Linked DNA regions of Homo sapiens: region 1 is linked to region 2. Evidence: fine-mapped expression QTL. Tissue or cell type: thyroid. Region 2 holds a variant in brackets; the other region holds the start of a gene. All regions are shown on one strand. Distances are from middle to middle. Region 1 holds the start of HNRNPM (heterogeneous nuclear ribonucleoprotein M). Region 2 overlaps HNRNPM (heterogeneous nuclear ribonucleoprotein M).

What was found.
Region 1: it holds the start of HNRNPM, and the variant in region 2 is fine-mapped to the expression of HNRNPM in thyroid (GTEx, PIP above 0.99). The same link has a PIP of 0.9 or more in breast, pancreas, prostate, stomach, subcutaneous fat and sun-exposed skin.

What each region holds. Positions count from the first base shown.
Region 1 is chr19:8,443,303-8,446,206 of GRCh38, reverse strand. HNRNPM (heterogeneous nuclear ribonucleoprotein M) reads right to left here and starts at 1,232. Exons shown (of 16, transcript NM_005968.5): 1 at 1,096-1,232. The coding sequence starts at 1,208. RefSeq lists silencers at 724-953, 1,194-1,473.
Region 2 is chr19:8,464,907-8,467,810 of GRCh38, reverse strand. HNRNPM (heterogeneous nuclear ribonucleoprotein M) reads right to left here. Exons shown (of 16, transcript NM_005968.5): 6 at 2,296-2,487; 7 at 1,423-1,576; 8 at 227-276. Among named protein-coding and RNA genes, the nearest start is that of HNRNPM, 21 kb to the right of the region's middle. The variant C/GAATACACACAGTC (reference allele first, on the strand shown) is at 1,339.

The DNA.
Region 1 (2,904 bases), 22 kb after region 2:
GCCACTGAATTATACGCTTAAAAAATGGTTAAAATGGCAAAGTCTACGTTATGTCTATTTTACCACAATGAAATAAATGTCTGGGAAATTCAATGTGTACCCAGGCTTCCCCTTCCTTCCCGGCCGCTGATCTTGGAGCCAAAACCTCTCTGTCTCTCTTAAGTGTCTGTAATCAGAATGAATGAGTTTCACCGGGGCACAAGTCGATGCTTCCTCCTTTAAAGAAACTTTTAAAAGCCAAGGAGTCAAAGAGCCCCAAGCAGGACTCGAAAAGCTGATGAAGTCTGGAAGTAAATGAACCCGCCTCCTGACAGAACAGCTTCCCCGAAACACGGGAAAAAGGGGATTCCTCCCCCGACTTCGTATCTGTCTGCTTCCGAGGGTGAACGCTAAGCAGCAGATCCCATCTCTCCACTAATACCTGCGGCGCACCCGGGGAGGAGGAGCGGGAAACGGCGAGGGACTTGAGCCAGGGCCAGAGCGTGGGGCGAGGGGCGGTTCCGAGGGAGGCACTTCCCGCGGAGCGCGGTCGGCGCGCGGGGACTAAGGGGCGGGGCAGGAGGGGAGCCCCCCGACCCGGCTTCGCGGCCCTTCCTGACGCTTCCCTCGCTCGGTTACCGTTGACTCGGGCTGACTGCGCGCGAGGCCTCCCGGGCGCGCACCCTCTCTCCTCCCCCCACGTTACGGATCAGAAAACAGACCCCGGGAGGAGAGGGGACGGGGGGCTGAAACCCGGCCCCCGAGGTCACCCTCCCGGGGAGCGGTCGGGTAGGCCTCGGAGGCTCTCCGGTCCGGGCCCGCGCCATCAACCCCCATGCGCAGCAGCTGGGCCTGAGGCCTCGACTACGGGGTTGGCCCCGGCCTGGAGGGACTGAGGGTGGCGAGGCTCGAGGCCCGGTGTAGGGGACGATTCTGGAGGCTCCCCCGGCTCCCCGCTCACGGCCCTAGACGCCGCTACCCTGAGCAGGCGGTACGGGAACAGCCGGGGCCGAGGCCGCGCCGGGGCTAGGCCGCCAACAGACCTAACGGAGCCGCCGCCCGCGTCGGCCGCGGAGAGGAACCCTTACCCGTGGCAAAGGACCGTGGGATACTCACCCCTTAGGGCCCGGAGCCCCGTTGCCGCTCGGCACGCCGGGCGCGCCGCTCTCTTCCTCCATTTTGATCTCCGTCGCCGCCACCTCCGCCGCCGCTTCGACCCCTGCCGCCATTTTCTCCGCGTCTGGGCTTTGTGTGAGCGAACGGGCTGCACCGCGCTGCGCCTGCGCGCCCACGTGACCCGACGCAACCAGTAACACCTGCGCCCGCCGCTCCCGGCTGCCTCCTTGGCCCCACTCGCCCCGGGCCACGCCCCCGCCGCGCGCAGGCGCAGACCGGCAGCTGTTGATCGCTTCTCTCTCGAGATACACTCGCGTTAGGCACCGACTGGCTGTTCCCGGCGCGCGTCCTCTGAGTCCGATAGAGGAGGCATCTCCCCACCCCACCCCACACAAACACCTAGACCTAGTCACTCTCAGCTTTCTGTAACCAGAGCTGGAGCAGAGGGGAAGCAATGATCCTGTCTAGAGATTCCTGGAAGTTTTAGATGAAGCTTGTTCAACCCGCGGTCCGGCACACGATTCGTAAACTTTCTTAAAACATTGTGTCTTTTTGTGTGATTTTTTTCTTTTTGTAACGCAATTGCGCGGTTCTCCAGCGCGAACTTTGTAGGCAACAACGGAACGGCATGGAATAATATCAGAGTATTATCCGTAATTCGCATTATAATTGCAAACAGTTCGTCCAGAAGAAACGGAAAACTGTTAAAATTCACTAATAATGGGGCCAGGCGCGATGGCTCACTCCTGTAATCCCAGCACTTTGGGTATGGGAGGCCGAGGCGGCGGATCACCTGAGGTCAGGAGTTCGAGACCAGACTGGCCAACATGGTGAAACCGCGTCTCTACTAAAAATAAAAAAATTAGCTGGACGTGGTGGCGGGCGCCTGTAATCCCAGCTACTCGGGAGGCTGAAGCAGGAGAATCGCTTGAACCCAGGAGCCGGAGGTTGCAGTGAGCCGAGATCACGCCACTGCACCGCAGCCTGGGAGATAGACTGAGACTCCATCTCAAAAAACAAAAAGATAAGTATTGAGTACTGGGCTTAATACCTGGGTGATGAAATAATCTGTACAACAAACCTCCATGACAAGTGTTTACCTATTTAACAAACCTTCACATTTACCCCCAAACCTAAAAGTTAAAAACAAAATTAAAAAAAAAATTAATGGCTGGGCGCGGCAGCTCACGCCTGTAATCCTACCACTTTGAGAGGCCAAGGCGGGTGGATCACGAGGTCAAGAGATCAGACCATCCTGGCCAACATGATGAAACCCTGTCTCTACTAAAAATACAAAAATTAGCCGGGTGTGGTGGCAGGCGCCCATAATCCCAGCTACTGGGGAGCCTGAGGCAGGAGAATCGCTTCAACCCAGGAGGAGGAGGTTGCAGTGAGCCAAGATCGGGCCACTGCACTCCAGCCTGGTCACAGAGTGAGACCCCATCTCAAAAAAATTAAAAATAATAATAAAGAGCGAGAGGACTCTTGCAATGTTGCATAAAGTGAACTGTGACAGAATTCAGGGTGTATTCTGTACTAGGCATAATGCTGTATGGTCTTATTTTTGTGTGCATTCGTGGCATCAGTTTTATGGTGCTGTGCAGCCTCCAATGTGCCATTTTCCAAGTGCAGACAGTCGAATTGGCACCATCAGATGTTACGTGTGCTTGTGGCAACTTGGGCAGTAAGATGCAGCGATTATCTTTTTGAGACGGAGTTTCGCTCTTGTTGCCCAGACTGGAGTGCAATGGCGCCATCTCGGCTCGCTGCAACCTCCGCCTCCTGGGTTCAAGCGATTCTCCTGTCTCA
Region 2 (2,904 bases):
TCATGATCCGCCTGCCTCAGACTCCCAAAGTGCTGGGATTACAGGCGTGAACCACCACGCCTGACCAGCAAAATGTTATTTCTCTCACAATTTTGCTCAACATACTGCACCCTATTTAACTTAGACTAATCCACAAATATTTCATAGTGGCTATATGTACACTCTTATTAATTCCATGTTTTTGCTAGACTTGAGTATATCACAGAGAAAGATCCTACTGACTTACCATCTTGACGTGCATTGGTCTATCAAATAGCAGCTGGCCATTGAACATAGCTGGTATTACAATTAAGGCTATTTCTTGCAATTCTAAAAATGTGCACAAGAGAAATACAAAAAGAAAGAAAAATACTCCAACTGCTACCAGTCCCTCTAAGTGATGAATTTATGAGCAATTTCAATTCTTCATTATACTTTCAACAATAAACATAAAAGGAACAATAAATAAAGCTGGCGGGGAGGACAAGACAACTTCCGCTTATTCCTTAGGTGTGAAGCTTCATTCGTAACCTTACAATTTCACCAAACCATCCTCTTAAGCAGTGGCATCAAGGTTCTCTGAATGTGACCAATGGGCCAGGCATCTACCACTATCTAAACTGAAGGACCATGTTTTCTGGGTAAGACATGCAGTGACGGTCTTGTCTGAGTTGTATGAATGTGCTCCTGTGGGGTACTCTCCAAGGGATTAAAAACTCTAGGCTAAGCCTAGGGTCAAGGAGAAGTGGCCTCTTCCAAAATGATGTCTACTCACTGGAAAGAGTGAGGTCCTATAAGGATGTATTACACATGAAACAACAACCCCACTTTCTCTCTAGTAGCACATTCTTTGGACTTCCTCCTTCAAACCTAGACTCTTCTGAAAAGAAAACAGTAGAAAGACTCATGGGCATATGCCCATGTTGTAACCATCCCCTCTATCCACACTGTATTGAATCAATTCCACCCCCAGAGAACCTTTTTTTTTTTTTTTTTTTTTTTTGAGACTGAGTCTCACTCTATCACCCAGGCTGGTGGTGTGCAGTGGCGCAATCTCGGCTCACTGCAACCTCCACCTCCCGGGTTCAAGCGATTCTTGTGCCTCAGCCTCCCGAGTAGCTGGGATTACAGGCACCCACCACTGCGCCCAGCTAATTTTTGCATTTTTTAGTAGAGCCGGGGTTTCACCATGTTGGCCAGGCTGGTCTCGAACTGACCTCAAGTGATCCGCCCGCCTTGGCCTCCCGAAGTGCTGGGATTACAGGCGTGAGCCACCGTGACCGGTCCGGCCCAGAGAACCTCTTAATTCCACAGTAATGCACTCCCCCTAGTCACATAAAAAACATGAATACACACAGT[C/GAATACACACAGTC]ACCTCTTCCTCACACAAACCTACATTACTAACACAGCAATTTAGGTCAAACTGTTCATAAGTTGAATTCCTGCAGAAGGATACATATAGCTTGCACAGCTTCAATGGACTGTTCAAAAGTAACAGTGCCTATTCCACGACTTTTTCCATCTTTATCTTCAAGAATGTCTGCTCGGACCACCACACCAGCCATACTAAATACTTCCTTCAGTTTCTTCCAGCCAACTTTATAATCCAGCTAATCGAGAGAGAACGGGGTAAAAACCTCAATGTAAACATCTTAAGAAACACAACATTTTTACTACATGAATGATACATGCTTTGGTTGGAAAAAAGTATTAGGAAATAATGTCACAAAAACTAATCAACTGCAATGGAAATTTTAAAATAGGATTATAAAGCCTGGCCTTCACTGTAAATAAACTGTACCTATAGTAAATATATTGTCTCTTTTCTCAGAAACTTAAGTCACCTCATACTTCAAATTAATACTCATTTTCTGAACATTTTTAAAAAATTGTTTCCCTGATAAGCTTTACCACTCCCCACCCCACCCAACCTACTTTATTCTAAAAATATTTCCCCTTGCAGATGGTGGAGGTATTATCATTCACCCCAGACACAACAAGAGGAAGGTGTCAGTGCACTTCTGCTCGTACAGTCTTACTCTGCACCAAAACTGCATAAAATAAACCAACGGAGAATGCAGACTCGGTTACTGCTTGCGGAAACACCTGCGAAACTCAGGAATCACAGCCCCAACGAGACCACGGTCAAGCCTGTGACTTAGGAATGCAGACAAAGCCCGCCTATAAGGCTGATTTTTAAAGAAATCAAGAACAAAACCCTTCTTTACATTTTTCTTCTCAAATGTGAGAATTACTTTTATAACATATTGACAAGGTCATTTCATAAAGTTCTGATTTTCTACTTTAGACGATGGTTCTGTTTACTTACATTTGCTACAAATACTGTGCTTCCAAGTCTTCCAGCCTGTAATGCATGGATAATCTCATTTGGGATGTTGGGATTATTTAGGATACTGGGTGGGATAGTAATCATTCCTGGGCCACCTGGTCCCATACCCATCCCACCAGTCGTAGCCATCACCTTTTGCATTGCTCTCCTGGCATGTTCACCATCAGGATCCTAAAACAAGCACAAAAGGTGTTACGTTTAACTGACCCAGTACAACGCAAACCATGCTTGCACAGTAAATGATATTCTCAAGACTTAGAAACTGAAAGGTTGTTTGGAAAGCATCTCTCAAATCTATTAACAAGAAAGTCAAATGAACTCAACTACCAGCTTAGAAGAGTCCAGCTAAAGAAATAGGAAAGGAAGAAAAGGCATGAAGTGTAGCACTAAAAACACAGCTCTCAATTGCACTAAGTAAAAAAGAAAAGCAGGGTAGGGAGGGAAACATGATTAGCTGATATAATGTAGAACCGCCAGACTGAAATTAGAGCTTCATGGGCTTGGTATAGCTGAATCTTACTAATTCATCAATGGGGTTTTGTAACTTCTGCAAACCCCGTCAATGGCTTCCAGAAGTTTGAGAAACAG